Linked DNA regions of Homo sapiens: regions 1 and 3 are each linked to region 2. The links come from fine-mapping of genetic effects on plasma protein levels. A gene starts in region 2. Each other region holds a variant in brackets. All regions are shown on one strand. Distances are between the middles of the regions. Region 1 has its middle 17 kb from the start of REG1A. Region 2 holds the start of REG3A (regenerating family member 3 alpha). Region 3 has its middle 11 kb from the start of REG3A.

The links. PIP is the posterior inclusion probability: the model's chance that the variant is causal. The UK Biobank Pharma Proteomics Project read protein levels with antibody pairs (Olink). The fine-mapping took linkage between variants from a reference panel, not from the people measured, so its PIPs are less certain.
Region 1: its variant is fine-mapped to the plasma level of the REG3A protein (UK Biobank, PIP above 0.99).
Region 3: its variant is fine-mapped to the plasma level of the REG3A protein (UK Biobank, PIP above 0.99).

What each region holds. Positions count from the first base shown.
Region 1 is chr2:79,131,183-79,142,902 of GRCh38, forward strand. It overlaps the pseudogene REG1CP. Among named protein-coding and RNA genes, the nearest start is that of REG1A, 17 kb to the left of the region's middle. The variant C/T (reference allele first, on the strand shown) is at 8,493.
Region 2 is chr2:79,156,469-79,167,637 of GRCh38, forward strand. It overlaps REG3A (regenerating family member 3 alpha), which reads right to left and starts at 3,285. Exons shown (of 6, transcript NM_002580.3): 1 at 3,260-3,285; 2 at 2,862-2,971; 3 at 2,183-2,301; 4 at 1,858-1,995; 5 at 1,104-1,230; 6 at 538-825. The coding sequence starts at 2,937. The coding sequence ends at 758.
Region 3 is chr2:79,143,244-79,153,508 of GRCh38, forward strand. No RefSeq gene overlaps it. Among named protein-coding and RNA genes, the nearest start is that of REG3A, 11 kb to the right of the region's middle. The variant C/T (reference allele first, on the strand shown) is at 3,290.

The DNA.
Region 1 (11,720 bases), 25 kb before region 2:
ATTGGAGGCATCTCCTGTGGAGGCTCCTCAATAAGGGCAGCACTGGTCCCATCGATAGCACTGGCCCCATATATAGCACTGGCTCTAAGATAGCATGCAGTTCATTCCCAAGGGACTCACGGAGAAGGCACTATGTTGTTGCAGGGATACATGCCACTTTTGTAAAGTGGAGGCTTAGAGAATAGCTGATACAGGCCTGGGACACAACTCTTCTACCCAACTGATCCCCTCAGGCCTTATGTTCGCATTCAAAGACATTGGCACCCTGGGAAGAGATGACCTAAGGCTTGTGCCTGAGCCACTAATATTTTAGCCTTCTCAAATGCGTCTTCTTGTTCTTTATCCCAGCAACAACTAGATCCCTTCTTCACTAGTCAGTATAGAGCATGAAAACGTTGCGCTAAAAGTGTAATGAAAGCCTGCCAATATTCCAAAAGACCTAGGGAACTTTGCAACTGTTTAAATGCTTTAGGCATGGCAAACTGTATTTTATGAATGATTGTCCCTGGGATAAGGCATGTCTTACCCAACCAAGTGCCCCTAGGAACTGCTCAGCCAATCGTGGTCCTTGTATCATTTGTGAATTGATGGCCCATCCTCTGGATTGGAGAAGAGTGCACAATGCATGGAGGTGCTGCTGTAGCAATAGCGAGTCTTCAGAAGTTGGCATAATATCATTGTTATAATGAAACTGTTTAACAGCAGGTGGCAGTGAACACAAAGTTAAATCTCTAGCAATCACTCCATGACAAATAGTGGGGCCGTGGAAAAAACTCTGGGGCAACACTTGGAATGTCCATTGTTTGCTGTTCCAAGTAAAGGCAAATTGGTTCCCTGAGTCAGGGTGCAAAGCGCTATTTTGGTATTATTTGCTCTATCACTTAGATTATGTTAGGTATAGTGATGTGTATCTCTAGAACCATCTTATTTAGTTCCTGGTAGTCTACTCTCACGTTCCAGGTGCCATCAGGTTTTCTTACTGGCCGTACAGGACTCTAGAAAGGACTGTGGAATGGCCATATAACATTAACTTTGGCCAGCTCCTGCATGGTGCCTGTCATTTCTTTTATCTCACAAGAAAGATGGTATTGTTTCACATTAATAAACACAGTGGAGGAGGAAGGTGTACCCCTTCCCATTTTGCTTCCCCTCTTAAAATAGCTTTTACCACCCAAACTCATGGGCTAAGTCCCTCACAGACATTTGTAAAGTGCATTCTAAATGGACATCCTTACGGAAGATGTTTTATGGAATAAATGAGATACAAACATATAATAAGTGGGGGTACTCTGTCCAATACAAATGAGGAAAGGAGTTTGTTTCACTCAAATTGTTCGCTCCCCTTAACCATCCACAGCTGCTCACTTACCAGGATGTCTCTTTGGGTTTCCATGAATTATGGTGCATTTTTCACCTATGTCTACTAAGGCTAAGCCTTTCTGCTTGTTTTTTGGACTTCAATAGATTGTGAGATCCACATGGGGCCTGTTTGCCCCCTGTTGCTGGCAGGAGGAGGCAACAGTCTCTAGGCTGGGGAGGAGTTGCCCCTGGAATGCAGAGATTGGGGTTCTTTTATGTGAAGTTTCCTCGTCTACTCTCTATTATGGTGGGGCACTAGGAAGTAGTCTAACATGTTGATCAGGTGCCAGGTTTTTCCAAAGGCCCACTAATACGGCATTGTGTTTCTGATCTATTTTTTGTCTTCTCCAGCTGAGATCAGATCATACCATATCTGCTTCCTGGTAATCCTAACTAGGCCATTCATTCCTCCCTTTTTTAGTCTGGCAGACTTGGCTTCTTCTTCTCCACCCCCTCCCCCACCTTTTTTTTTTTTTTTTTTTTAGCAAACAGACAGACCTTATCTCTTTCCTTTTCATTTTTTCCAAGATTAGCTACAGCTTCCTCATGTAATATATATCTTGTCCCAGAAGAGGGCTTAAGAGGCATAGGAAAGAACCATAGCAATTCCAGGGGTGGTGGGGACGGGGCAGCTTGCAACAACTTATTATTATTATATATATATATATATTTTTGCCTATGGTAAACACGGCCTTATTTGGTCCTGCAAATTGCTGGGCATAGATGGCCTGAGCATGACCAACTCCTTTAAATTGGTCCTTGTTTCCTCCAGAGTTCACCTTACCAGAGTTTGACCCGGAAAGTCCCCTTCATTTGGCCAAGCCTCTGTCACAGCCAGGATAATCTGGTCTATAAGACTGTGCTTGCTCTCAGCAGTTCCAGCACTATGCAATGCTGTCTCAAAGCAGATTGGGTGGTTACAGTACTCATTGTATCAGCTTCACTTTCTGCTAAGGAAATGCCATTCACGCTAGGTTTTCTTCGCTGCATCATCCATGTGGCTCAGCTTTCTATTGGCTGCTCTTTGAAAGTTTTTGCTATGTTCAATAATTCTGCCAAGGTGTAATTTTGGACATTGAAGTTTTCCTGAAAAGGTTGTCCATTACCAGCTGGCTGCAGGCGTTGGGCTTTTGTTTTCCATTGCATGAGAGGTCTTGCTCTCAAAAGGGAAGGATAATTATCCTCCTCCTCCTGAGGTATGTCTTCATCTCACTCACTATTTGGTTCCTAAGGACAACAAGTCTTAGCGTTCCAGTCCAATTTAGGAAGAACAGCTTGCACTTTTGGCCAACACAGCTCTCTCCCATCTAACCATATAAAGCAGCAGGCTAGGGGTTCCAGGTGAGTATCCTGAGTTTTGAGCTTATCTGCCAGACTAGATGCAAACATGGACGTGGAGGTCCACATATCCTTTTCTAATGGTAATTCTTCCTCTAGTCTTAGTACCTTCATCTTAGCTGCTAACTACACTTCTGTGGCCATTCCCACAATCCGTAACAGTGGCCAACCCTCTGTCTCAGCCACCTGGTGAACTTCCTTACCCCAGTGAGCTGTAAGATGTTCTACTAACAAGCATTCTAGACCCTCCAGCATTTTCAGGGCATCTCTGTACTCACATGATGGTCCACAGGCATCTAGCAAGTAGCCAACACCACCCCACATAGATGAGGGGAGCCTGCCAGGATTTCCTCCACGTATGTTTCCTGCCTTTTGCCCAAACTTTGGTTCCTGGACCCCTATTGACTGACTCCCCAGTTGTTTCATAAATGACCATATATGCAAAGCAACCACCAAACACGAAAGGAGCCAAGAAACTAAAGACTGAGGCAGAAGAGTCCAGTTTGTCAGTAAAGGGTGATTTGCTGGGGAACATACAGACAGAAGTGTGGTCTTGGCGGCCACCGACAGGGAGATCTCCACACTGTTACTCCCTGGCCCCAGGGCTTATGTACCGCAGGGAAAGAGTGCACGTGCTCTATACAGACAATTAGAGGCAACCCTTCCAAACAGACAAGAATGCTATGTTCACTATAGCCTATCATTTGTGCAAAGACCTCAAGATTGTTTTTTTCTAAAGGCAAGATTTCTAGTAAGTATATGTTCTTACCCTAAGGACAGTAAATAATGTAGGAATCAGGAAGCATTCCCACGACTGGGGCTAATCAAAAGTCAACATGGCAGATTAGCACCCAAGATGGAGTCACTTTCATCTCCACAGTGTCTGTGAATCTAAGTCAATTTATTCATAGCTCATAAATAGATTTTGTTGTTGTTTTAATTCAGACTAACAATATGTGCCTTTTGATTGCATTGTTTTATTAAATCCCAGGTAATAGTATTATTGATGCTGTTGGTGTTATGGGCTGAATGGTGTTCCCACAAAATTAATTCATTAAAGTCCTAACATCAGTACTTCAGAATTTGACTGTATATGAAGATAGGATTATTAAATAACTATGCCTGAGTATTTTATTAATCTAATTTATTATTCATTTAGCCGTTCATTCCAGGAGTGCCATTTAACCAACATTGCTGGCCACCAAGCCTCTAGTCATTCCAACACCAATGCATTCAACACTGTAGACCTGACAATTCTCAAATTATCACTTCAGTCATAGCTTCAACTTGTATAACAAAGCACAGATGTGCCTTCCTCAGGTCACAGGTATGTGAACCTCTTTAGAGTACCAAACACTCCAGTCACTTGTAAATCAACAGTAATAATTTCTCTGACACTGGGTCCATGGAAATATGTGGGTGGTGAGTGAAATCCTTATCTTCTTAACATTGTCATAAGCAAGGCCACCATATGTTCATAAACCCTTGAGTCCAACATGCATGATATGTGGACAAAGTTTTTAAAAGTGAATGGGCCGAAGCAACTTCTAGAGTGCTACAATCACTGCCATCCCAACTACCCAGGCATTAGGTGGGGAAATAGCAGACACAGAAGACAGCACTATGGGGGAAACATGTTTATTTTTATTGTTTAGGGCTCCAGAAATTGAGGTAGGTAAAGATACTAAAGATCAGTCATGCAAATTTAGCAGAGGAGAGATGGTCCAGATTGATATGGAGAGAGATGGTCCAGTTTAATTCTTTTACTCCATAGTAACTGGTAGACCAATTCTAGACGTCCATTTTACAATTGCCTCCAGTATTTGAACTTGCAAACAAAGGAGAACTTCTCCTTACAAGAATCATCCTTCCATTTCTTGAATCCTATAAGACAATGAGAAGATTCAGACTGAGGGGATCAGAGTGTATTACCCTCCTGGCTGCAGGACTCAGCAAAAATAAAGAGGAAACACTCCTCTATTTCCTGAATGAGGAGCTCACCCTTCCTCTATCCCAGTCCCCGGTCGATCCTCAGAGATAAATAGGAGAGGATGGCAATAAGTGTGTGGATTCTGTGCCTCTCACCTGAGCTTGAAGTCAGGCTAGCACAGTAGGCAGTATTGGCACAGCTTGGGGATCCAATGTCCCAGGATTTGTAGGAGACCAGGGACCCACTACTCCACTGATAATGGCAGTTCTAGATGGGGAAGGGCCAGAACAGGGGCAGACGTGACTCAGAAAGAGACAGAAACACCTGGTTTGTGTTCGCACTCAGAAACAGGTCAAGACATAAGACAAGAATAAACCTTCCTTTTTCTCTAAGTGTCATATTATTTCCTCCACATTTTCTCTAAGCTGCTTCTTTCCTGGAATGTTCACCTACCTCTCTGTGTCCTGCCAAACGATAAGTGTTCTAAATTTGCCACAGGGAACCATGACACCTCATTATTGAAACTAGTTCCTGGTTTTTCTTTCCTGAGGCCCCAAAAGTTCATATCCAGCATAGCATTAGATGGCCATTAGTTGTTGATATATTATTTAGTATACCTTGCGGTTCCCAATTGCCAGCAGTAGATTCTCCTCCTCTATAATCTTTTTCTATATGGTCTACAGAAGGCTCTTCTATAACAGAGATGATAACACAATAGATAAGAGGTACATAATAGATACATAAAGATGCTACCCTAGAAGTACAGAGAATGAGTTTATCTGTGAATGCCTGAAACACACAGGAAATTCAGCTTTAAGCTTATCTCGAAGAACCTATGGAGAACCTTGATATCCTTTACATTATATGATTTATAGAGAGGTTGCTTTTATCATAATATAGTAAAAACTGATGCTTGAGGTGCCAGACATCAGACCCTCTGGAACCTGATAATCAGGAGGTAGAAGATGCAGCAGACTGATCCGGTGGGGGTCATGGAGGCCAATCCAGACATTGCTATCCTTGGTGCCACTCTCTTTAATCAGCGAAGCCACAAAGGCACCCTCAGCCTGGGTGAGCACAGACACCAGGTTACCTGAATTCATGTTCTGGCAGTAGAGCTGTTGGAGAAGAAAATGGAGCACTCAGTGAAGGAGGAAAGTGTGGGAGACATATTGAGCCCTCCCAGAGGATGTAACAGAAAAAGGACAGCACAGAAATGTCCCTGATGATGCTGTCACTGACCACCAGCATCTCTGTGCTGAATGATGGGATAAAGTAGATTGGAAAGTTTTGGGCTGATGATTGGATAGGGAGGGGATTAGTCTCATCTCATATCAGCCACTGAACACACTGGAGAGTGGCAGCTTCCCCTCCCTTCGTGAGCCTCCCTTCCCACACTGCTCTCCTCACTCACATCTGCATAAACCCAGGTCTCATGCTCTTCATTAAAGTAGTAGCAGTGGGAGCCTTAGGCACTGGTGCCTTCTGGGCAGCTGATCTGGGCCTTGGGCAACTCAGCATGGGCCTCCTGTCCTGGGAAAAGAGAGACAATTAAGAAAGACCCTCAGGGCAAGGTAAAGGCTAAAATATGAGGTAGGAGCTTCTGAGGATTCTTTATAGGAATAGAAGGATCCTATAGGTCACGAAGCGATTGGTCACTTCTGCCCTTCTGCATCTTACCTATAGGCTCTCAAGATGTCTTTGCTCAAGACAAGAGCACACAATGAATAGGCTCATGAAAAGTGTCCCCATTGTCCCTTTTACTTATGGCTTTTTCTTCCTTGAAGGACTGAGGCTTCTTTCTCAAGCCTGTCCAGTTTCTCTACACACAAAGCTCCCCTCAGTTCCCCATTCCACTAATGACTGTCTACAAACAGACATCCTCAACCCCCCCATCATGAGTAGTGTTAATATGACAAACCAATGCCAACTGCAGTGGTCACTGATAAAGGGTTATGCTAAGTTCCATCTCTAACTCCTTAGGGAGGTCAGGATGTTTTTGAATGGGATGAGATCAGCAATAAATATCACTGAACAACACAAGACAACCCCTGAACTTGACTCTGCTTTTTCTCAAGTGAACTCATATGCATGAGGATAGAGTGAGGGCTTCAGGGCTGGGGTTGTGGGAGGTATGTGTGGGGAAAACAATCTCACCTTGGCTCAGAGACAGGAACATCAGGCAGGAGATCAGCATGAAGCATGAGTTGGTCTGAGCCATGCTGAGCAGCAGTGAATCTCTTGCTTAAGGAGCAAATCAGCAATCTCTATAGGAAAACACAGGGAAGAGGGTTTGAGAGAATGAGAGCAGAGCACCTATTACCTTCCTTATTTCCTCCTCTGAATTCCTGACAGCAGGAAGGTCCTCTGAGATATCTACATTCCCATATATTTCTCTTGAGAATCTGGAAACTATACAGGCTCAGTAATCCAAAATAACTTTGGCTTCTACTGAGGCTTCGTTACTGCTGACACCTCTTGGACAGATGACGCTGTATCTTCCCCAAGATTTTAGATTACAGCCCTTGTGAAAGGTACCCTTCTCCTGTAATGCCCACTTACTTGTTGGCTGAATCTGAGGTGGCTTTTCAGGCTAGGTAATGGTAGAGATGTATAACAGGATCTGAGAGAAGAGCCACAGTATTTAAGCCGGGGTGGAGCAAGGAGTGAGAGACAGCGGTTCTACAGAGGGCATTGACAGTAAGAGGTTCTGGCATCAAGAGGAGCTCTTCCTGGCATATCCTGGGAATGGCCACAGATGAAGTCCCTTCCCCTAAACTGGAAACCTTTCCAAGTTCAAGGCAGACCTTGCCCTTGCTCAGCAGAAACCAGATGTCCTATCCTGCAGCCCTGAAGATCCAGCAAGCAGCTGAGACCTTCCAGGAATCTTGGCAGCTGTTATGCAGGCTAGGCCAGCAGTAGTAGAGGCAGAGAGAGTGAGAACCTGGAGTAGGGCCGTCTTTGAGACACAGGGAGAAGGGAGCTGCTGAATGGTTATGGAGCATCCCTGTTTGGAGCAGTGGGGCAAATAGAGTTTAAAATATTGGTAACTTAATTGACTTTTCCAATACTGTACTATGGAAGAAAGCAGAGCTAAAACTCAATTCTTCTTTTTTTCTCCTTCGTAGTCTAATATACTGTTGTTGTTGCTGTTGTTGTTGTTGTTTGTTTGTTTTGGTCTCTGAGCACCCTCCACTTGCAGGTTCTGTCAGTCCATGTATGGTCAGTCCTTCTGCACTGTCCATTTCCTGACAAGACCACTGCCTGCATCACCCTGTTATAACCTTTATGTACTTCTCAAACCATTCATGCATTTCAATTTGGACTGTCCCACAAGTAGCTGAAAAGCCTATGCTTTCCTTCCTCTGTTGAGCACACTTTTAAAACCATCAAGATCACTCTCTATCTTTTGCAAAAGGAGCTCCAGGTTCTTTCTGAGAATCTCCCTTACTGGATTTGCTGGCTTGCCTTCTGATCCTACCATCCAGTAGAATTTCCTATTGGTTCTTTTCAACATTGGCATTTTCTCTACTTAGCCAATTAAAGAACACAATAGGGCCAGACCTAAGAATTTTCCTTCATGTTGTCTCCTTAGCATAGATTAAAATAGCCTTATAATGCACCAGAAGATAGGTTAAGATCTGTTCATTAAAATTTTAGAGGAACCAGGTCTTTGATCTTTGGAGAAGGTAATTATAACTCACAAGAGGATTCCAGACTAATCCCCATATATGTTTTTCCCCTGTAAAGTCAGTTTATTAGTTTAACTTGGCTGTGTGACAAACTTTCACTCTCATTCAGATTATTGACTGAATTCAGTTCCTTGTAGTTGTAGAGTTGTAGCACTGAGGTTCCCACTTCCTTG[C/T]TGGCTATCAGCTTAGGTGCCAGTCTCAGCTAGATTCCTTGGTACAAGAACCTCTCCATCTTCTAAGCTAGCAACAGGACAGTGAATTCTTTTTGGCCTTTGAATTTCTTGACTTCCCCTTATGCTGCCAGTCAGAGAAAATTATCTGCTTTCAAATGGCTCACGTGATTAGACTGGGCCCCTCCAGGAATCTCCCAAAACCTGCTTTCTTATTGATACAAGGTCAATGAATTAGTAACCTTCATTGTATCTTCAAGAATCCCTTTTTCCATGTAATATAACATAGTTGTGGTTTTTCAATCTCATCCTATTTACAGGTTCTGCTCACATTCATAGGGCACACATTACATAACATCAAGGGTCATGGGGGTCATAATTCTGCATAGCACAGCATGGCAAATAATTCATGCTCCTCTGCGATGAACCTCACTCAAACTTGTATAAGGGGAACAATTACTCTATTTCCCACATGAAAGAATCAAAAGGCTTCATACCTAAGACATTTCCTCTGGACTTTCATGTTCATGCCCTTTCAGCTAATGTCCCCCTCCTCCAACTAATCCCCACTTGCATAATACTTCATCCCCTAACGATTTATCTTCATATCTTTTGATTAAATTCAAATTACTCAATTTATGACTGCTAATCCTCAGGAACAGTCCCTCTATCCTTGATGGTGGCTGAAGTACCCTTGCTAAAGCCCCATAAAACATTTCACCTTCCTGCCCCAAGTCAGAATGGCCCTTGGGACTCTTCTTAGGCCAAGAACATTTTCTTTTCTTTTTTTCTTTTTTTTTTTTTTTTTGAGACGGAGTTTTGCTCTGTCGCCCAGGCTGGAGTGCTCACTGCAAGCTCCGCCTCCCGGGTTCACTCCATTCTTCTGCCTCAGCCTCCCGAGTAGCTGGGACGACAGGCACCTGCCACCACGCCCGGCTAATTTTTTGTGTTTTTAGTAGAGACGGGGTTTCACCGTGTTAGTCAGGATGGTCTCGATCTCCTGATCTCGTGATCCACCCGCCTCGGCCACCCAAAGTGCTGGGATTACAGGCGTGAGTCACCGCGCCCAGCCAGAACATTTTCAAATAAAGTCTTATGCTACTGACGCTTTGTAGCTATCCCATCTAGGTTTGTGTAAGTACAGTCTTTGATGTTCACGTGAAAATGAAATCACCTAAGGATGCGTTTTTTAGAACATATCCCCATAGTTAAATAACCTATAATTGTATTCTCTGGCACTTTATACTCAAAATGTTCAAAGATTCCAACTATTAAATGGTCAGCATTTTAAAAGTTGTTACGAAGATGGCTTTAGAAATATAGATAAATTCTTAAAGAAACAAACAAAAATCCTAAAATTTATTTTTGTAAGTGTTGTTGAGGATAGGCTAATAAAAACTCTGACTGTATAACCCCAAATTTTAGTAGTGCTCTGGTTGATTTTCTTCCATACTTATTTTCTTACAAGATTCCCGAATCTGTGATCCTCTTGAACTCCACAGTATTTGATGTTTGCAAATGTTTGGAAGGACATTTGTTTTACCTTCAGGTTTTCTTTGGGGAGACATTCTTAGAAAGCTGAGCTGTTCCTGGGCCGGGTACAGTGGCTCACACCTGTAATCCCAGGACTTTGGGAGGCCGAGGTGGGCGGATCATGAGGTCAGGAGTTCGAGACCAGCCTGGCCAATATGGCAAAACCCCATCTCTACTGAAAATACAAAAATTAGCCAGGCACAGTGGCAGGCACCTGTAATCCCAGCTACTTGGGAGGCTGAGGCAGGAGAATCGCTTCAACCCGGGAGGCAGAGGTTGCAGTGAGCTGAGATGTGCCACTGCATTCCAGCTGGGGTGACAGAGCAAGACTCCATTTCAAAAAAAAAAAAGAGAGAGAGAAAAAGAAAGCTGAGGTTGTTGTTTTCTTCCAATGTGCTGCAAGCAAAAATCATTTAACTTCATGTCAAGAATTATAAAGGTTCTGAGATTTTTACCCTACTTGCAAGGTAAGGTAGACTTCCACAGTTTGAGATTGGCAAAAGACAAAGGACTTTTATTACTCATGGTACAGTAAGCAGAACAAGCAGCAGCACACTCACCCTAGGTTCCCTTACTCTAAGTCTCATGGAGGTGACATCGATGGGCCAGATAGATGCCTTCACATTGAGTGGGTTATGTTACAGGGGAGAAATGGCCCCTGTAATTACATTATGAGAGTTTAGGGAACGAACCTGAATCACTTATAATGGGCAACAAGCAAGCCTACCCTTTGCTTCAGAGGGAGACTTCTTTATTGTACCTGGGAGTAAGTATGCCTGTCTTCACTATGAATGGAAACTTTCAAGACTATAAGCAAACCTACCCTTTGCTCTGGAGGAAGATGCTGTCTCTACTTTTAAAGGTTTTTCACAGCTGGATGCGGTGGCTCACGCCTGTAATCCCAACACTTTGGGAGGCCGAGGCAGGTGGATCATGAGGTCAGGAGTTCAAGACCAGCCTGGCCAAGATGGTGAAACCCCGTCTCTACTAAAAATACAAAAATTACAGCGTGCCTGTAATCCCAGCTACTTGAGAGGCTGAGGCAGGAGAATCGCTTGAACCTGGGGGGCGGAGGTTGCAGTGAGCCGAGATCGCGCCACTGCACTCCAGCCTGCATAACAAAGCAAGACTCCATCTCAAAAAAACAAACAAAAAAAAAAAAGGTTTTTCACTACCCAAACATTCTTGAAAGATAGTCTAGAAAAAATGGCAGTAAGTGCCTCTGCTTGCAAGAAGTGGAGAAACGTGAGACAATTGTCTCTCAACTCTTCTCTGAACATTATTTTCTCTCTCCATAAAACAAGAGGGCTCTTCACACTTAGAGTAGTCAATGACTTTTAGAAAAAGATGATTTGTGTGGATTTAATTGTCTGAGGAAAGGTCTGTGGGAAGTTGGCAGCAGAGAGATGATAAGCTTTTGAAAATCTTTAAAATGATGGAATTGAAGAAGGAATGCACCAAAAGCATTATACAACTGGAAAACTTTTCTCATCCCTATGATAAATTTCAAGTAGCACCTAAGACATTACATGCACATTCTACAGACAGCATCTCTGGCTAACATTTTCTTGATAGAATACCTCTTGGTTTCTAAATACCTCAACTCCACACAATGTTTATGTTCCTCAGTGCAACATTTTTTCAGCCAAAGCTGAAATGTTTTATATATGCATCTCCAAATATCAATGTAAATATTTT
Region 2 (11,169 bases):
GAGATTGATGGAGGGGTGATATAAATAATGTAAAAGTCTTCTTTCTACCCTCTTCGATGCATCCTTTCTTATTTTTTGCAACATTCAGATGCTTTAATCACTCACTTGGGATTGTTAGCTCTTGTGAAGGTATTTCCATTTTAATGGGTAGTAGTTCAAATGAATGTTTCTGTGAAGGTTCAAGAGCTGGAAAGTCCTATCTACCATCCTGCTGATGCCATTCTCTGAGAAGTACTATTCTAAGCACCATCAGAGCCTCCTAAATCTGTTCATGTCACACTGTCAGGTTTGGGCTACGGGAATGGGAGGGCAGTAAGTACGCGGGAGAGAAATGTCCTCATCTCTCCACAACACAAATCCTACATGAGCAGGACCCACACCCTCATCATAACACACTGGTAGGGATGCACACTTCATCATTTTCCCTAGAGGCCTGGGTGAATAGGGAAGAAGCAAGACCCATAAAGTTTCCTCCACTCAAACACTTTGTCCTTCTCAGAGTATGGCTATGACACTGGCATATACAAGACAAACAAGTGCAGACTAAAAATTTTATTGCTCTTTAAAGCCTTAGGCCGTATGACAAAATGAAGAGACTGAAATGACAGCGGGGAGGAAGAAACAGAAGAAAGATAAGAATGAGGTGGTCAGGTTGGGGGAATTAAGCGAATATTCTCTTCCAGGGTGAGTCCTCACACTGGTCTCATGCCCATGATGAGTTGCACACCAAACACAGGCTGCTGACTTCCCTCCTGCACTAGTCAGTGAACTTGCAGACATAGGGTAACCTCACATTACAGTTATAATCTTTCCACCTCAGAAATGCTGGAGAGACAGAAGACATAAATGGAATGGGGCTGAGGAAGCTTGTGAATCCAATGAAGGGGCATCCCAGGTTTTAGCCTAGAAGTTAAAGCCTCTCCCTCACCTTCACCAGTGTCCCAATCCAGGAGAGAGATTCAAAGAAAGTGGAGAAGAGAGGAGATAAGAGAAGACACACTAACATTGTATTTTCTAGCTCAGGAAGATTTCCTGAAGGTCAGACCCAGGAATGGGGGATGAGATGGAAAACACTGGGAAGAGGCAGCTCCTCTGTTTCTTACCTGTGCTTCTCGACAGGCTCGCACAGTGGCCGGGGCTTGAGATGGTGGAGGGATTTCTCTCCCATGCAAAGTAATTCATCACATCACTGCTACTCCACTCCCAACCTTCTCCATTGGGCTCGGTGCCCTGTAGAGTAGAGGAGGTAGCCAGGTGAAGGGAATGGCCATTGCAGCTCTTCTTGCATGGCCCCTTAGCTGCAACACCTGATTTGCTCCCCAGCATGAGGAAAGTTGGTCTGCTATTCCAGATGCTGCCGGTGAGTAGGAAACTCTTCCTTGACTCCTCATTGCTATTGGAAAATTCCAGCCAATAAACATAAGACCTTTGGAACAACTCAAGGTAATATATTATTTGCAGAACAATAATTGATGTAGCATTTGTGATTAGCTTGTGAACCTCAAAAGTAATGTCAGTTCTGTATGGGGACAAAAATTGATCCTATCTTCATTAAGAGTTCCTTCAGAATAGTAGGCAAAGACTCCATGAAGCTCAGAGAATTGTTAACCCAGCCTCATATGAGAATTATGTAATACGCCTGAGGAAGGCAGATTGATTTTATCTGAAAGATAGAGACCTCCACAGAACTCAGATCTTCAGATGCTTCATGGCCTTCCCTTTCCCCCCAAATATTCCCCAGAATCTGAGCTCCAGTGCTCCCTGAAGTACTTCCTGGGCAGGCACAGGGGACAGGGAGTGGGCCTGGGCAACAATAGCACCTTGAGAGGTAACAGAGAGGGGAGGATATACTGGCACCTGTGTGGGGTCATGGAGCCCAATCCAGACGTATGAGTAGCTGTTACCAATGCTCTTCACCAGGGAGGACACGAAGGATCCCTCAGCCCCACTGAGCACAGACACCAGGTTTCCAGAGGGCCGCTTCTGGCAGGCCAGCTTTGAGGGCAACAAAGAGAATGAGAGGGAGCCTGAGACCTGCTGAGGGAGGGCAGGGCAAAGGTAGGTGGGAGGAGGACTGTGTGAAAGATAAACGTGTTCATCCTCATTCCCAAGGAACTCTCCTGAATGGAGACCCTCCTCCCCCTGAGACCGGTCACCTCCAACACCACATCTAACCACTCACATCTGCATCTGTCCAGGATTTTGGTGACAAAAACAAGGCATAGCAGTGGGAGCCATAGGCCTTGGAGCCTTTGGGACAGCGGATCCGTGCAGAGGGCAGTTCCCTCTGGGGTTCTTCACCTGAGGTGGAAGAAGAGGGGGGAGGGTAAAATGAAGAGTGGGGCTTGGGGTGGGAGATGACCTTGGGGAATACCTAGGAATGTCCTTGGGGAGGAAGACCACATTCCTGACACCCCTTCATCTTCCCTTATGTTTTCAGAAATTCTTTATCTCAAAATAGCCGTAGTAAATGGAGCACCATCCAGTCTCTTATTACCCTTTCCCCTTATTCAACCATTCAATACTCTCCTCACTCTGGGCTGTCTCTACATTGGGTCCTCCAATCATTGTCCCTCCCCACATCTCATTACTGACCCTCCAGTGTATATTAGAGTCCACTTTCCCACCAGTGTATATTAGAGTCCACTGACTAAATGGAAGCCATCTCATTCCACTGTTAGTGGACCACCATGGAGCCTCCCACTGCAAGTTAACCTGAAGGAAGGAGAGATGATGCAAGAACTGCAGGCAGGTTCATTAGACACCACGTCATTACCTCACATGACACACAGGAGCCTTCCTCCTCTTGTTAGCTCTGAGGATTCATAGGGAACCCAGTGCTAGAGGCAAAGCAATCTCACCTTGAACCTGAGACAGCAGCATGAGGCAGGAAAGCAGCATCCAAGATACACTGGGCAGGGCCATGGGAGGCAGCATAGTGTCTGCGACTTGAGGAGGCAATCAGGAGTCACTAAAGAAAGCGTGGTCAGTGGGAGAACACACAGATACCCCACTGCCTCATGTCATTTTCCTTCTCTAGTCCCCTAGGACTAAAGTGATCTTGGTCACATCCATCATCTTCTACAGTTCTGAATGAGTTGTGAATCTGTGTACTCTCCCATCCCCGAGCCCTCCCAGGACACCCTTGCTGAGTCTCAGAGTTCCTGTGCTCCCTGAGGAAGGGACCCTCCCATGTATTCTCCTGTGTCATGTGCAGTAGCTCCTCCCTGGGTCTCATCTTCTCTCAGCTCCCACTTACCTCTCTGGTGGGATATGGTATGGTTTGTCTGGTCAGGAAAGAGTGGGATTTTATAAGAGGATCTGGGGGAGGGACATTGGAGTGAAGAGTGACAATGAGTAGGCAGGACAGGGGTCATGGGGTGGGGTTGGCATGGACTCTTCCTGGCAAAGACTGGGGATTTTCCCAGATGTTGCCTCTTTCCTGTTGGCAGGCCAACACTTTCCCTAGGAAGAGGTGAAGTTTGCTTTTTCCTCTGCATCCTCCTTGTCAAAGGCCTGTGGCACCAAATGTGATATGAAATCTTCTAATGTGGACATCTGAAAGAGGAGTTCCTCTGGTGGGTTTCTTAAGAACCCACTTCTGGAGGCAAACCTATGTATTTCTTATTACCTTGCCTAGTAAGATTAAATAAATGTTAGGTGTTAAGTGAAGATTTACGGGAATTATAAGTATCATGGACAGTTGAGGACATAGATGGTACTGAAGCTAAGAGTAGGAGTGAGGGTTCAGGGCCATTATGCAAGCATGATAGCTAATTTTGATGAAACTTCAGAATTGTCTGACAAGTCAATACATGAGCCACAATCTTACAGAAAATCAGGTGAATGGACTTGTCTTTCCAGTCTTCAGCAAGAAAGAGCTTCCCCAGTGGAGAATGACAATGGCAATGTGATAGAATAAGAGGTAATGAAGGAAAACAAGACATAAGAAGGACTACAGTCAAATAATGAGGATCAAAGAAGAATGAATAATAGTTAAAGAAGGGAAGAGCAGCCATTGTGTAAAATCATAGGTCAGTTGGCCAGGTGCTGTGGCTCAGGTCTATAATCCCAGCACTTTGAGAGGCTGAGGTGGGAGGATCACCTGAAGCAAGGAGTTCAAGAGCAGCCTGGGCAACACATTAAGACCCTATCTCTACAATTTATATTTTAATTTAAGCCAGTTGCGGTGGTGTGTGCTTGTGGTCCTAGCTACTCAGCAGGCTGAGGTAGGAGGACCTTCAGTTGAACCCAGGAGTTCAAGGCTGCAGTAAGTTATGATCATCCCACTGCACTCCAGCTTAGGCAACAGAGTGAGAGCCTATCTCTAAATTTTTGTTTTGTGATGTTGTAAACATAATTCTGAATTGCATGTAAGTCTCTATTACATCAAAATGCTCACTACTTGTAGGTTGCTCATGAGCTTCCTTGCTGGACTGCCATTTGGCTGTACATTAAAAGCCCTTTTCATTGCATTCTTACTGGGCAAATGGTCAGCTTCATATGGGTATACTGGGAGAAGTTCTTTTAGTCATGTTTATTTTTGAGTTAGCAGTTTGGTGCCTCTGACAAGCATACTACATTGCCCATACACTGGTTCAGGTTCAGTTTGGCCAGTCCAGGAAAAAGTTAGGCTGGGAATTTCTACAGACCCTGACTCTCATGCTATTGTTGTAATATGCCAACTTGTATGCAGATGTTTATAGTAGGGGTCTGTGACGAGGTCATGAGATGTAGCTCATCCTTAATTCACGTCCTCAAAATTCAGTACCCAAAATTCAATGCAATTCCTCAAATAATATGAGAAGAAATATAGCCAGCAGATTATTTTGTTAAAAAGGATTTTTTTCCACAAAATTTATACAACAATATGTAAACACATGGAGGTACGGGGTAGAAGGTAACCAGAGGGTAGAATAGTTACCAGAGGCTGAGACGGGTGAGGGGAGATGAAAAGAGTTTAGTTCATCGTACAAACATACAGCTAGATAGGAGGAATATGTTCTAGCTTTTGATAGCACATAGGGTGACTATAGTTAACAACAATATGTTGTATATTTCAAGATACCTAGGAGAGAAGATTTGAAATGCTGACAGTTTATTATTAAAACTCACTTTTGTTCTTAATTGAAATAGTGTGACCTTTGTAATAAGCCTTAAGGTTATAAAATCCCTAAGTGCAATGTGAAATTTTCTTTGCAATGACACTCACTAAACTCACTAAAGTTGAGTTGTTTTTGTTTTATTTTTCATTGTTTCTTCATAACAATGCTTATTAACCAAGCACTGAGAAGTTTGTTTAAATATTATATTTCTTGAGCTGGTTTTGAGTTATATAAAAATCTACTTCTTAGGGATGACACAGGAATTCTTATTCTTGATGTAACCAAGGCTGAGTTTTAAGGAGCTTCCTTTGCCAAAAGATGTCCAATTTGTACTTTTATCCCTATTATCTTCTGAATCAGATATTTGCAGATAAGACTTAGTAGTCATTCTTAGAATTATAAAAGTGAAAACTGATCTCTTTGCAGGAGCCTAATATATTTGTTTCAAGGATGGTAAAATGTAGAGGTTTCCTGGAAGATGGCTCAGCAGGGTCCATGTCAAAAATAGCCTTGAACTGTATCTCACTGGAGATTTATCACTAAAGTGCACCCCTTTGAGATATATTAACCAGATGTCCAGAATGCCACTTTGGTCCTTTCATCTTATCCTAACACTGTCAGAAGAATTGGGAAAGGGATAAGATTAGGTGCTGAGCAACTATAAAACAGGAAAAAGGGACAAAACTTCAAAGCCCCTGAGGCCAATGAGGGAAGTTATTAACATCAAAGAACTGGAAAGCTGATAACATAGCTACTGAAATTTGGTCAATTATACGTAAGCCATGAACAGTAACTATCATATGACCTGTGCAGTTATTGGAGGCAATAATTTTTATCAGAAAACTGTGTTAATATTTATTTGGTTTCAAATTTTCACATTGATCTTGGAAGAGTTCCCTGTTCATATCATGTTTGCTCTTCTAACGTTATCTATTTGGGTATTTTAAAAAGGCTATTGCTTTTTATTGATTTTTCTTTTAGAATAAGCTAGTTATAATACAAAATGTTCATTTGGGAAAAAATTAAGATAATGTTTTCAATTAATTACCATAAATCATACTCAAACAGCTTGTGGGTGATAATTTTGCAGATCTGAACTGTTCACAATGTATCAGAGTTCACATTTCTTGTGGTAGCAAATAAAAATAAAAATAAGAAATAATTCCATAGTCATGTTGCTTTTCTTTTTGTAATAAATTATCTTTATCATACAGAAAACATTTAACAAACAAGTATAGGTTGACCATCTAGAATCTACAGCGATAATATCTTGCCATCTTTTTTAGCTTTATTTTTTAGAGAAATGAAGCAAAAAGAAGTAATACAATCAAATTAATATTAATAAAATGATAAATAATACATTAATATTAATGATTAATAAAATGATAAATAATAAATGATATAATAAATAATATCATTAATAAAATGATAAATATAATAAAATTATAAATAATAATAATTAATATTATTTTAAAAAATAATATTAATAAAATGATAAATAAATAGTAGTCCATTTATGTTATTCCTCAGTCCCACTTATTTCCATGCTTCTCCATTACCAATTTTATAATTATTTTTCATATATATATATATATTTTGCAGTTGCAAGGTTTAATAGAGTGTAAACAGAGCTCCCATACAAAGGGAGGGGACCCAAAGAGGGTAGCCATTGCTGGCTCAAATGCCTGGGTTTATATCCTGATCATTGTCCCCCACGCTGTGCTCTCAGGTGATAGATGATTGGCTATTTCTTTACCTCCTGTTTTTGCCTAATTAGCATTTTAGTGAGCTCTCTTTACTACTTGATTGGTCAGGTGTGAACTAAGTTGCAAGCCCCGTGTTTAAAGGTGGGTGCAGTCACCTTCCCAGCTAGGCTTAGGGATTCTTAGTCAGCCTAGGAAATCCAGCTAGTCCTGCTCTCAGTCCCCCCTCTCAACAGGAAAACCCAAGTGCTGTTGGGGAGGTTGGCCAATGATTGCTCTAACTGCTTCCTGCTGAACTGGGGTGTAGTAGGGGTTGTGCAGTTGAGATTTCCTCGGGAGAGTTGCCTTCAATGTCATTAACATTGGAGCATGAGGCTAGCAGGCCAGTCCAGGGGTCTGCAGTAGATCTTAGTCATGGACTGCATCTGGGGCTCCATTTGAAGAACCATTTGTAGTTTTACAGCTTCGATTCTGGAAGAGACAAACTTAACAAGGAGGTTAAAGGTACAGGGATTGAAAGGTATGGCCTGCAGTGCAGGGGTTATTTCTTTGGCACACTTCACAGGCCCTGACTATCTGCTTGATAGTTTTGAAAAGGCCTGGTCCAGTAAATAATAATTTGGCCATCTGATGGGTGCTATCAATGTCTAAGTGAAAGTTTTGGTGAAGGGTTTTAAGTAATTTCCATTGGTTAGCTGCAGGCAAAAGTATTTTTCCTTCTTTGGTGGCTAGCCATCCTCAGGGGAGGAAAGTATGTCCTCATGAGGTTCCCCATTCTATTCATCCTGCTGAGTACTGGGGCTTGGTTTCCTGGAGGGGGTTACCCCACACTAGGGGTCCCTCTATAAGCATTTCTGATGGAGGGTCCTGTCTTGCAGCTCTTTTGGCTTCAATATCTGCTTGGTGGTTCCCTTCTATTTCCCTTTCCTTTCTTCTCTGATGACCCTAGCAGTGTAAGACTGCCACCTCTTTGGGTTTCTGTACAGCCAATAATAATCTCCTAATGGCTTCCTGATGGTTGATAGGTTTTCCCTCAGAAGTTAGGAATTCCCTTTCTCTCCATATTGCTGCATGGGCATGGAGGACTAGGTAAGCATACTTAGAGTCTATATGTATATTTACCCTTTTTCCTTCTCCTAATTCTAGTGCTCGAGTGAGGGCTATTAGTTATGCCGGCTGAGCACTAGTTCCTGGAGTGAGGGGATTATTTTCAAGTATTCCATTATCCCTGACCACTTTTCAAGGTCCTTTTTCTACAAAGGAACTTCCATCAGTATACAAGTTAAGGTCGGAATCAGTCAAGGGAACCTCTAAAAGGTCCCCTCGAGCGGGGTAGGTTTGAGCAATTACTTGTTGACAGTTATGTTCTATCTTTTCTTCATTGTCTGGAAGAAATGTGGCTGGGTTAAGAGTTGCAAAGGCGCGCAGTTGCAGCACAGGCCCTTCAAGTAATAGAGCCTGATGTTTAAGTAAACGATCGTCTGACAGCCACAAGTCTCCTTTAGCAGTGAGTATGCCGTTCACATCATGAGATGTCCACACAGTAAGATCTCTTCCATGTATTATTTTAACTGCTTCAGATACTAAGACTGCTACCGCTGCCACTACCCATAAACAATGAGGCCAACCCTTTGCCACTGCATCAATTTCCTTACTCAGGTATGCCACAGTTGGCAAGTTCATCCCTCGGACCTGTGTAAGGACTCCTAGAGCTATTTCTGTTTTTTTCTGTGACATTTAAAGAAAAATCTTGCCCCTTTGGCAAGCGTAACACTGGAACTTGGGTTAGAGCCTTCTTTAGAGCCTGGAAAGCTGCTTGTGCTTCAGGTGTCCACCTTACTAAATGGGTATTGGCTTTCTGAGTTTCCTTAATTAGTGTATATAATGATCTGGCTATTTTGCCATACCTGGGAATCCATATTTGGCAGAAACCTGTTATGCCAAGGAACCCTCTTAGTTGCTTAGGGTTTTGGGATGAGGACAAGCCAGTATAGGCTGCATATGTTCCCCACTGAGGGCCCTGGTACCTTTGGATAATTTTAGCCCTAAGTATTTAAACTTCTGTGAGCAGAGCTGAGCCTTTGGTTTGGAATCTTGTAGCCACAGGTAGCGAGGAAATTTAAGAGTGCTTGGGTGGCTTGATGGCACAAGGCTTCTGAATGGGTGGCTAAAAGTAAATCATCCATGTACCAAAGGACAAGAGTGTCCAGGTATGAGAATTGGCTCAAGTCTTGGGCTAATGCCTGGCCAAATAGATGGGGGCTATCTCTGAACCCCTGGGGTAAAACAGTCCAGGTGAGTTGAGACATTGGGTTCGAAGGATCTTCAAAGGCAAATAAAAATTGAGAGTCAGAATGTACAGGGATGCAGAAAAAGACATCCTTAAGGTCCAGGACTGTAAACCACTCTGCTTCCTCTGGTATTTGGGAAAGCAGGGTATAAGGGTTAGGTACAGCTGGATATAGAGGAACAACAGCCTAATCGATAATCCTGAGATCTTGCACTAACCTCCACTGTCCACTGGGTTTCTGTACTCCTAAAATTGGAATATTGCAAGGGCTATTGCATGGTTTTACTAGGCCTTGGGCTTTTCGGTCCTTAACAATCTTTTGGAGTCCTTGTTGGGCCTTGGGTCTAAGGGGTACTGCCTTTGGTAGGGAAAGGAGGCAGAATCCTTTAGTTTAACTTGAACAGGATGGCATTCTTTGCTCATCCATACTGTCCTTCTGTTGCCCAGACTTCAGGATTAATTCCTTCCTCAAGCAGGGGACAACAAACGGGTGTTCCTTCTCCTATGTTCAGGTGTGTAATGGCCCCTGCTTTTGCTAGAATTTCTCTCACTAACAAGGGAGTGGGGCTTTCAGGCATAATTAGAAAAGCATGTGAAATGAGTAAAGTTCCCCAGTCATAACTTAGTGCCTGGGAGAAGTATCTAGTGACTGGCTGTCCTAGGACCCCTCGGATAGTGACAGATCTGGAGGACAGTTGTCCAGGACAGAACAGTAAGACTGAGAAGGCCGTGCCAGTGTCCAGGAGACAGTTAACCTCCTGGCCCTCAAAGGTCAAGCATACCCAGGGCTCTATGAGGGTGATGGCATGGGCTGGTGCTTGCCCCGGGAACCCTCAGTCCTGCTGTTGGATCATCTGGTTAGTGGCTTCTGACTCAGAGGACCTTCATCCCCCGGGGCCCTGGGCCTTCCAGTGATTCCCTTGATATAACGGGCATGGACGAGGGGGTGGCTTATTTGTACTTGGATAATCTTTTTTAAAATGTCCTTGTAGACTGCACTGGAAGCAAGCCCTATTAGGCACCCAATTTGCTCAGCATTTCCCTTTTCCAGAGCCTCCAAAGTCCACTTGCCTGAGGGCTATAACTAAAGCGGTGGCCTTTTTTTTATCCCGTTTGTCCCATTCCGCCTGCTCCTCCTGATCTCTATTATAAAAAAACCGAGGTTGCCAAGTTCAGTAGGGTTTCTAAGTTTTGCTCCAGGCCTAAGGCTGACTTTTGAAGTTTTTTTCTAATGTCTGCAGCTGACTGAGTGATAAACTTTTCCTTTAAGATTAGTTGGCCTTCAAAAGAGTCAGGTGACAGACAGGTTTTCCTCCTCAATGCCTCCCTTAGTCTTTCCAGAAAGGCAGTAGGATTTTCTTCCTTTCCCTTTGTTATACTGGACATCATTGAATAATTCATAGGCTTCTTCCTAGTTTTCCTTAGTCCTTCTAGCACGCAAGTTAGCAAATGTCTGCTGCACCATTCTCCATGTTCTGATTCTGTGTCCCTATGAGGGTCTACACTGGGAACTGCCTGCTGGCCTGTGGGGAATCGTTCTCTTTCCTCTGTTTTCATCCTATGATGGACCTGACTGAGATACCAGAGATCGCCAAACTCTCGGGCTGCAGTTATGGCGGCACTTCTCTCATTTGGGGTTAGTGTCTGATTTAACAGTAACATTATATCTCTCCATGTCAGATCAAAGGATTGTCCTAACCCTTGTAAAACATCAATATAGCCATCAGGGTTAGCTGAGAATTTACCTAGGTCTATTTCAATTTGCTTTAAGACTGAGAGAGAAAATGGTACATGCACTCTGGCTGGGCCGAATTCTCCTCCTCCCACTGTTTGGAGTGGGCATAATCGGAGAATATTGGCACTCTTTGATTCATTGTTTACCCTTTTGTCTATCTCCTTTTGGACTATTTGGGTTGAAGGGGGGTCCTTATTAGTTGGGGAAGGAGTAGGGGGGATGCTGGGGTAGGAAGGTACACTCTGAGGGCTTCTTGTAGGGGATAAATCACACTTTTTACATAATAGCGAGTTGTCTCTTAATGAAAAGAAAATTTGTACATATGGCGCTTCACTC
Region 3 (10,265 bases), 14 kb before region 2:
ACTTAATATAACATCCTCCAGGTTAATTCATGTTGTCACAAATGACAGGACTTCCTCTATTTTTAAGGCTGAATAACACTCCACTTTGTATGTATATACTTTTCTTTATCCATTCATCTGTTGATTGACACCGAATTTGACTCCATCTCAACTATTGTAAGGTTTAAGTGAACATGGGAGTGAAGATATCACTTGACATATGGATGTCGTTTCTCTTTTTTTGAGAAGGAGTCTCGCTCTGTTGCCCAGGCTGGAGTGCAGTGGCGCAATCTCGGCTCACTGCAAGCTCCGCCTCCAGGGTTCACACCATTCTCCCGCCTCAGCCTCCCGAGTAGCTGGGACTACAGGTGCCCGCCACCACGCCCTGGTAATTTTTTGGGCTTTTAGTAGAGACGGGGTTTCACCATGTTAGCCAGGATGGTCTCGATCTCTTGACCTCACGATCCGCCCGCCTCGGCCTCCCAAAGTGCTGGGATTGGATGTCATTTCTTTTGGATATCTCCCCAGAAATGGAATCACCGGATTATACAGTAATTCTTTTCTAATCTTTTGAGGAATCTCCATAGTGTTTTGAATAATTGCTATAGCAATTTACATTACCACCAGTACTATACAAATATCCCCTTTCCCCTGCATTCTTGCCAACAACTGTTACCTTTTATTTTTAATTACAGCCATTGTAAACGGTATGAGGTGAGATGACACTGAGGTTTTAATTTGAATTTTCCTAGTGATAACTGATGTTAAGCCGTTTTCCTCATATACCTCTAGATATTTGTATCTTCTTTGGAGAAAAGTTTGTTCAGGTCCTTTGACCATTTTTTAAATTGGGGTATTTTTTTGCCAGTTATTAAGTTCCTCATACAGTTTGAATATTAACCCCTTATCATATGTATGCTTTGTAAATATTTTCTCCCATTCTGTAGGTAGTCCCTTCACTCTAATATTTGTTCCCTTTCCTGTGCAGAAGTTTTTATTTTGATACAATCTCATTTGTCTCTTTCTGCTTTTTTACCCTTGCGTTTTTTCTATTATAACCAAAAAATGATTTTCCAGTTGATTTTGTCATACAGTCATAACATGGACAATGTTGTGACATTTCCCCCTAAGTTTTCTTGTAGTAGTTTTAGAGTTCCCAGTCTTATGTTCAAGTCTTTACCCATTTTGAGTTTATTTTTCTGTACAGTATGAGATAAGCGTCTAATTTTATTATTTTATGTATGCACGTTAAGCTTTCACAACACCATTTATTGAAGAAACTGTTTATCAACATTATCTATTCTTGGCATCTTTAAAAACTCCATTGACTGTAAATATGTGAATTTATTTCTGGGCTATTTTGCTCCATTGGTCTATGGATTTGTTTTTATGCTACTACAATGCTGTCTTGATTAATATAGTTTTGTAGTATATTTTGAAATCAGGTTGTATGATGTTTCCAGCATTATTCTTTTGGCTCAAGATTGCTGTGAATATCTGGGGTCTTTTGTGGGTCTATCTCAATTTTAAGATTATTTTTCCTACTTTTGTGAAAAATGTTATTAGAAATTCAACAGGAATTGCATTGAAACTGTAGATTGCTTTGGGTAGTATGAAGACTTTAACAATATTAACTTATCCAGTCTATGAACATGGGATAAGTTTCATTTATTTGTGTTTTATTCAATTTCTTTGATACCAGTTTTATTATTTTTATTGCACTGATCTTTTACTTCTTTGGTTAAATTTATTCCTAAGTATTTTTGTAGTTACTGGAAATATGGTTGTTTTCTTGATTTCCTTTAGGAGAGTTTATGGTTAGTGTAAAAATGCTACTAATTTTTGTATGTTTATTTAGTAACCTGAAACCTTATCAAATTATTTTATTACTTCTAATAGTATTTTTTAATGTAGTCTGTAGGGTTTTCTAAATGTAAGATCATGTCATTCACAAAAAGAGAGAATGTAACTTCTTCCTTTCCAGTTTCAATGCTTTTGCTTGTTTCTCTTGTCTAATTGCTCTGGGTAGGACTTTGAGTGCTATGTTGAAGAGAAGTGGTGAGAGTGGGCATGCTTGTCTTGTTCCAGATCTTAGAGGGAAAACTGACTTTTCACCATTGAGTATGTTGAGAGCTGGAGGCTTGTTGCATATGGTCTTTATTGCGTTGAGGTACATTCCTTTATTTTAAGACAGAGTTTCACTCTTGTCACTCAGGCTGGAGTGCAATGGCGCAATCTCAGCTCACTGAAAACTTTGCCTCCTGGGTTCAACCGATTATCCTGCCTCAGCCTCCTAAGTAACTGGGATTACAGGAGCCTGCCACCAGGGCCGGCTATTTTTTGTATTTTTAGTAGAGACAGAGTTTCACCCTGTTGGCCAGGCTGGTCTTGAACCCTGATCTCAGGTGATCTGCCCCCCTCGGCCTCCCAAAGTGCTGGGATTACAGGCATGAGCCACTGCATCCGGCCAGTACGTTCCTTTTATATCTAATTTTCTGACAGTTTTTTTTAAATATAAAATAAGGCTGAATGTTGTCAATTGCTTTTTCTGCATCTATTGGATAATCTTTTTTGTCCTTCATTTTAGTAACAATAATAAATGTAATTTATTATTATTTAGTAATAATCAATAAATGTTGCAAATTATTTATTGATTTGCATATGTTGAACCATTCTTGCATCCCAGGGATGAATCCCACTTGATCATTTTAATGTGCTGTTGAAAATAGTTTACTAGTATTTTGTTGAGGATTTTTGCATCTTATTTCATCAAGGATATTTGTCTTTAGTTTTATTTTCTTGTAGTGTCTTTCTCTGGCTTTGGTGTCAGAGTAATACTGGTCTCATAAAATGAGTTTAGAAGTATTCCCTCCTAGTTAATTTTTTGGAAGAGTTTGAGAAAGATTGGTATTAATTCTTTAAATAGAATTCAGACTTGAAGCCGTCCCATTCTGGGCTTTCCTTTGATGGAAGACTTTTTATTACTAATTACATCTTATTACTTGCCATTGATCTATGTATATTTTAGATTTCTCCATGGTTCAATCTTGTTTGGTTCTGTGTCTAGAAATCTATCAATTTATTCTAGGTTTTCCAATATGTATCAATAAGATACTTAGTTGCTTATAATACTCTTTAATGATCCTTTGAATTTCTGTGGTTTAAGTTGTAATGTCTCCTTTCTCATCTTCATTTTATTTGGGTCTTCTATTTTCTTAGTCTGGCTAAAAGTTTGTTAATTTAATTCACCTTTTCAAAAAAAAACAACTCTCATTCTCGATCTTTTCTATTCTTTTTCTAGTCTTTATTT[C/T]ATTTATTTCTGCTCTAATCTTTATTATTTCTTTACTTCTACAAAATATTGGCTTATTTTTTCTTCTAGTTTCTCAAGGTGTACAGTCAAGTTGTTTATTTGAGATCTTTATTTTTAATGTAAGCATTTATTGCTATAAAATTCCCTTTTAGGACTGCTTTTGCTACATACCATAAGTTTAGTATGTTGTATATTCGTTTTCATTTGTCTCAAAATATTTTTCTAATACTAATTTAATTTTTTATTTCAGTAGCTTTAGTGGTACAATTGGCTTTCGCTTACATGGATGAATTATATAGTGGTGAAGTCTAAGATTTTAGTGCACGCATCACTCCAGTACTCTACCTCGAGTAGTGTACTCAATGGGTAGTTTTTCATCACTCATTCCCCTCCCCACCCTGAGTCTCCAATGTTTATTTTATCACTCTGTGTGCCTTTGGGTTCCCACAGCTTGGCTCCCAATTTTAAGTGAGAACATGCAATATTTGGTTTTTCATTCCTGAGTTACTTCACCTAGAGTGACAGCCTCCAGTTCCAACCAAGTTTCTGCAAAATACATTATTTTGTTCTTTTTTATGGCTAGTCAATTACCATTATTCCATGGTATATATGTGTGTGTGTGTATATATATATGGTATATGTCTGTGTGTGTCTGTATATGTATATGTATATATATGTATGCTACATTTTCTTTATCCATCTTTGGTTGATGGGCACATATCTTTGCAATTGTGAATTATGCTACAATAAACACATGCATGCTGGTGTTTTTTTGATATATAATCATTTTTGTATGTGGCTGGATACCCAGTAGTGGGACTGCTGGATCCCACCACTAATCTCACTTTTAATTTCTTCTCTGGTCCACTGGTTGCTTAGGATAATGTCATTTAATTTCTACATATTTGAATATTTTCCAATCTTTCTCTTTTTATTGATTTCTAGTATTGTACTATTTTGGGTGAAAATTATACTTGATATGATTTCAGTCGTTTAAAATTTGTTGAGCCTATGTTTATGGCCAAATATATGATCTCTCCAGAAGCATGTCCCATGTGCACTTGAGAAGAATGTTTATTATGCTCTTGTTGGAAGAAATGTTCTGTATGTCTGTCAGGTCCATTTGTCTGAAGTGTAGTTCAAGTCCGCTGTTTATTGAATTTTTTTCTGTCTGAATGACCTGCCCATTGTTGAAAGTGGGTACTGAATTATCCAACAAATATTGTATTACAATTTTTCTCTCTCTTCAGATCTATTGATATTTGCTTTATATATTTATGGGCTCCAATGATGTGTACACACATATTTAAAATTATTATATCCTCTTGCTGAATTGACTTCTTTATTATTATATAATGACCTTTGCCTCTCTTTAAAGTTTTTAACTTAAAGTCTATTTTATGTAATATAACTATAGCTACCACTGTTTTATTTTGGTATCATTTGCATGAAATATCTTAATTCTTTCACATGCAGCCTATGTGTGTTCTTAAAGCTAAAGTAAGTTTCTTGTAGGAACATTAAGTTGTGTGTTGGTATTTTTTTAAATTCATTTGATCACTCTATACCATTTGACTGGAGAATTTTACTCATTTACTTTTTGAATAATCATTAATAAGTAATTACTTACTACTGCCATTTTGTTCATTGTTCCCTGGTTGTTTTGTAGGTCCTTTGTTTCTTTCTTCCTCTCTTTCTCTCTTCTTTTTGACTAGATAATTTTCTCTTGTGGTATACTTTGGTTGCTTGCTTCTTATTATTTATCTATTATAGGTCTTTGCTTTGTGGTTACCATAAAGCTTACAAAAATATATTTATAATAGACTATTTTAAAAAGATAACTTGATCACATAAAAATATTTTACACTTTTGCTGTTGTTTGCACATTCTTGTTATTGGTGTCACAATTTACATGTTTCTTTATTGCATATTCCTTAACAATTATTGTAGTTACTGTTGTTTTTAATAGTTTTGTCTTTTATGCTAAAGATTTAAGTGATTTACCAACCATCACTACAATGTTAGAGTATTTCAAATTTTACTATGTACTTAACATAGTCAATTTATACTTTATACTTTCCTGTGTTTTTATGGTATCAGCTAGCATTTTTATCTTCCATCTTGAAGAAATTCTTTTAGTCTTTTACATAAAGAAGGTCTAGTGTTAATGAACTCTCTCAGCTTTTGTTTTTCTGGTAAACTTCCTCTCTTTTCATCGTTTCTGAAGGATAGGATTGCCAGGTATAGTGTTCTTGGTTTGCAGGGTTTTGTTTTGTTTTGTTTTTTCATTGAGTATGTTGAATATATTATCCCACTCTCTCCTGCCCTGAAAGGTACCTTCTGAAAAATCAACTGATAATCTTATAGACATTCGCTTGCACATAATATGTTATTTTTCTTTCGCTGCATTGAAAATTTTCTTTTCATCCCTGACTTTTTGGAATTTGATTGTAATGTGTCTCAGTGAAGATGTCTTTATATTTAATGTATGTGGAGTTTTTTGTACTTCATGGATGTAGATGTTCCTTTTTCTCACCAGTTATGGGAAGTTTTTCACAACCATTTTTTTCTTTCTTTTTTTAAAATCTTTTATTTCAGGTTCAAGAGTACATGTGCCAGTCTGTTATATAGGTAAATTGTATGTCACAGTGGTTTGGTGTATAGATTATTTTTTCATCCAGGTAATAAGCTTAATATCCAATAGGTGCTTTTCCAGTCCTTGCTCTCATTTCACCCCTCATCCTCAAGTAGGTTCCAGTGTGTGTTTTCTTCTTCTTGGTGGCCATCTGTAGTCAAACTTTAGCTCTCACTTATAAGTGATAACATACAGTATTTGGTTTTCTGTTCCTGTGTTAGTTGGTGGAGGATCATGGCCTCCAGCTCCATCCATGTTGCTGCAAACATGATTTTATTGTTTTTTATGGCTATGTAGTATTCCACTGTGTATATGTACCACATTCGCTTTATTTAGCCTACTGTTGATGGGCATTTAGGTTGATTCCATGTCTTTGCTATGTGAATAACAGTGTAATGAACATATATATGCATATATCTTTATGTTAGAATGATTTATATTCCTTTTGGTATATGCCCCATAATAGCATTGCTGGGTCAAATAGTAGTTCTGTTTTAACTTATCTGATAAATTTCCAAACTGCTTTCCACAGTGGCTGAACTAATTTACATTCCTACCAGAAGTGTATAAACATAGCCTATTCTCTGCAACCTTGCTAGCATCTGTTATTTTTTGACTTTTTAAAAACAGCCATGCTGACTGGTGTGAGATGGCATCTCACTGTGGTATTAATTTTCATTTATCTGATGATTAGTGATTTTGAGCATATTTATATGCTTCTTGGCTGTGTGTATATCTTCTTTCGAAAAGTGTCTGTTCATGTCCTTTGCACACGTTTTAATGCAGTTGTTCAGTTTTTGCTTGCTAATTTAAGATTTTTGTAGATTCTGGATATTAGACCAAACTATGTCAGATGCATAGTTTGCAAATGTTTTCTCCCATTCTGTAGGTTGTCTGTTTACTCTTTTGATAATTTCTTTTGTTGTTTAGAAGCTCTTTTCTTTAATTAGATCCCATTTGTCAATTTTTGTTTTTGTTGCAATTGCTTTTGGCATCTTCATCATGAAATCTTTGCAAGATCCTATGTCCAGAAGGGCATTTCCTAGGTTATCTTCCAGGATTTTATAGTTTTACATTTGACTCTTTAATCCATCTTGAGTTTACCTTTTAAAATAGTATAAAGAAGGGGTCCAGTTTCAATCATCTACATATGACTATCCAGTTATCCCAGCACCATTTATTGAATAGGAAGTCCTTTTCCCACTGCTTATTTTTGTCAACTTTGTTGAAGATCAGATGTTTGTAGGTATGTAGCATTATTTCTGGGATTTCTATTCTGTTCCTTTGGTCTATCTGTCTCTTTTTGTACTAGTACCATGCAGTTTGGGTTACTGTAGCCTTCTAGTATAATTTGAAGTTGGGCAATGTGATGCCTTCAGCTTTGTCCTTTTTGCTTAGGAATGCCTTGACTATTCGGGCTTTTTTGTTCCATATAAAGTTTAAAATAGTTTTTCTAATTCTGTGAAGAAAGTTTCCGGTAGTTTCTTATGAATAACATTAAATCTATAAATTGCCTTGGGCAGTATGGCCATTTTAACAATATTGATTTTTCCTATCAATGAGCCTGGAATGTTTTTTCATTTGTTTGTGTCATCTCTGATTTTTTTGAGCAGTGTTTGATAATTCTCCTTGTAGAGTTCTTTTGTCGCCCTGCTTATCTGTATTCTTAGGCATTTTATTCTTCTTATAACTATTGTGAATGGGATTGTGTTCTTGATTTGTCTCTCTGCTGGGATATTGTTGTTATATAGGAATCCTAGTGATTTTCTTTCATTGATTTTGTATCCTGAAACTTTGCTGAAGTTGTTCATCAGCTGAAGGAGCTTTTGGGCTGAGATAATGGGGTTTTCTAGATATAGAATAGTATCATATGCAAACAGGGATAGTTTGACTTTCTCTCACCCTATCTGGATGCCATTTATTTCCTTCTATTGCCTGATTGTTTTGGCCAGGACTTTCAGTAATATGTAGAATAGAAATGGGGAGAGAGGACTTTCTTGTCTTATTTCAGTTTTCAAGGGGAATGCATCCAGTTTTTGTCCATTCAGTACGATGTTTTCTATGGGTTTGTCATAGATGGCGCTTAAGGTTCTAAAGGATATTCCTTCAATGCCTACTTTGTTTAGGGTTTAAACACAAAGAGATGTTTAATTTTGTCTAAAGCCTTTCCTGCATATATAGATATGATGATGTGTTTTTTGTTTTTGGTTCTGTTTATGTGATAAATCAATTTATTGATTTAGATATGTTGAACCAACCTCACATTCTAAAGCCTAGTTGATTGTGGCTTTTTGGTGTGTTGCTGGATTTAGTTGGCTAGTATTTTGTTAAGGATTTTTGCATCAATGTTCATCAAGGATATTGGCCTGAAGTTGGATTTTTTGTTGTTGTTGTGTCTTTGTCAGATTTTCATATCAGGACAATGTTGGCCTCATAGAATGAGTTAGGAAGGAGTCTCCCCTCCTCAATTTTTTGGAATAGTTTTAGTAAGAATGGTGTCTTCTGCTCTTCTTTATACATCTCACAGAATTTGGCAGAAAATCTATCCTGCCCTGGGCTTTCTCTGGTTGGTAGGTATTTTATTAATGATTTAATTTCAGAACTCATTATTGGTCTGTTCAGGGATTCAATTTCTTCCTGGTTCAATCTTGGGAGGTTATATGCTTCCAAGAATTAAACCGTTTCTTCTAGGTCTTTCAACTTGTATGCACAGTGGTGTTCAAAGTAGTCGTCGAGGGTTTTTGTTTGTTTGTTTGCTTGTTTGCTTGTTTTTCCTGTGGTGTCAGTGGTAATGTCCCCTTTGTCATTTCTGATTGTGTTTATTTGGATCTTATCTTTTTTCTGTGTCAGTCTAGCCAGTGTTGTATCAGTCATATTTATTCTTTTAAATGACATATTCATGGATTTGTTGATCTTCTGTATGATTTTCACATCTCAGTTTCCTTCAGCTCAGGTCGGATTTTGGTTATTTCTTGTATCTGCTAGCTTTGGAGTTGGTTTGTTCTCACTTGTCTAATTCCTCTAAGTGTGATGTTAGATTGTTAACTTGAGATCTGTCTAACTTCTTGATGTGGGTGTTTAGTGCTATAAACTTCCCTCTTAACACTGCTTTAGCTGTGTGTGGGAGGTTCTGATATGTTGCATCTTTGTTCTCATTCATTTCAAAGAATTTCTTTATGCCTACCTTAATTTCATTATTTACCTCAAAGTCATTCAGGAGCAGGCTGTTTAATTTCCATGTAATTGTATGGTTTCAGGTGATTTTTTAGTAGGGATTTCTATTGTTATTGCACTGTGGTCGATCAAAGAGTGTGGTTGGTATGATTTCTGTTTTTGTTTTTATGTTGTTGTTTTTTTGAGCTTGCTGAGGATTGTTTTATGCTCAATTGTGTGGTCAATTTTAGAGAATGTGCTATGTGCCAATGAGAAAAATGTGTATTCTATTGTTTGAGAGTGAGGAGTTCTGTAGATGTCTACTAGATATGGTCAAGTGTTGAGTTCAGGTCCTGAATATCATCGTTAGTTTTCTGCTTCGATGATCTGTCTAATACTGCCAGTGGAGTATTGAAGTCTCTACTCTGATTGTGTGGTTATCTAATTCTCTTTGTAGGTCTCTAAGAACTTGCTTTATAAATCTGGGTGCTCCTGTATTGGGTATGTATATATTTAGGATAGTTAGGTCTTCATTTGAATGGAGCCCTTTACCACTGCATAATGCCCTTGTCTTTCAAAAATCTCTTGGTTTACAGTCTGTTTTGTCTGAAATTGGTATAGCAAACCTGGCTTTTTTTTTCTGTTTTTTGTTTGCATGGTAGATTTTTCTCCATCCCTTTACTTTGAGTCTAGTAGTGTCATTGCATGTGAGATGGGTCATTGCATATGAGAGGGGCATACCATTATGTCATGCTTGTTTTCCAACTTGCCACTCTGTACCTTTTAATTGGGGCATTTAGCCCATTTACATTCAAGGTTAGTATTGATGTATGCAGATTTGATCCTGTCATCATGTTGTTAGCTAGTTATTATGAAGACTTGTTTGTGTGGTTGCTTTATAGTGTCACTGGTCTATGTACTTAAGTATGTTTTTGTAGTAGCCAGTAATGGTCACTCCTTTCTGTATTTAGCACTCTTTTTAGGTTATTTTGTAAGGCAGGTCTGGAGGTAATAAATTCCTTTAGCATTTGATTATCTGAAAAGGATCTTATTTCTCCTTAGCTTATGAAGCTTAGTTTTCCTGGATATGAAATTCTTGTTTAGGATTTCTTTGCCTTAAGAATGCTGAATATAGGGCCCCAATCTCTTCTGGCTTGTAGGATTTCTGCTGACAACACTGCTGTTAGC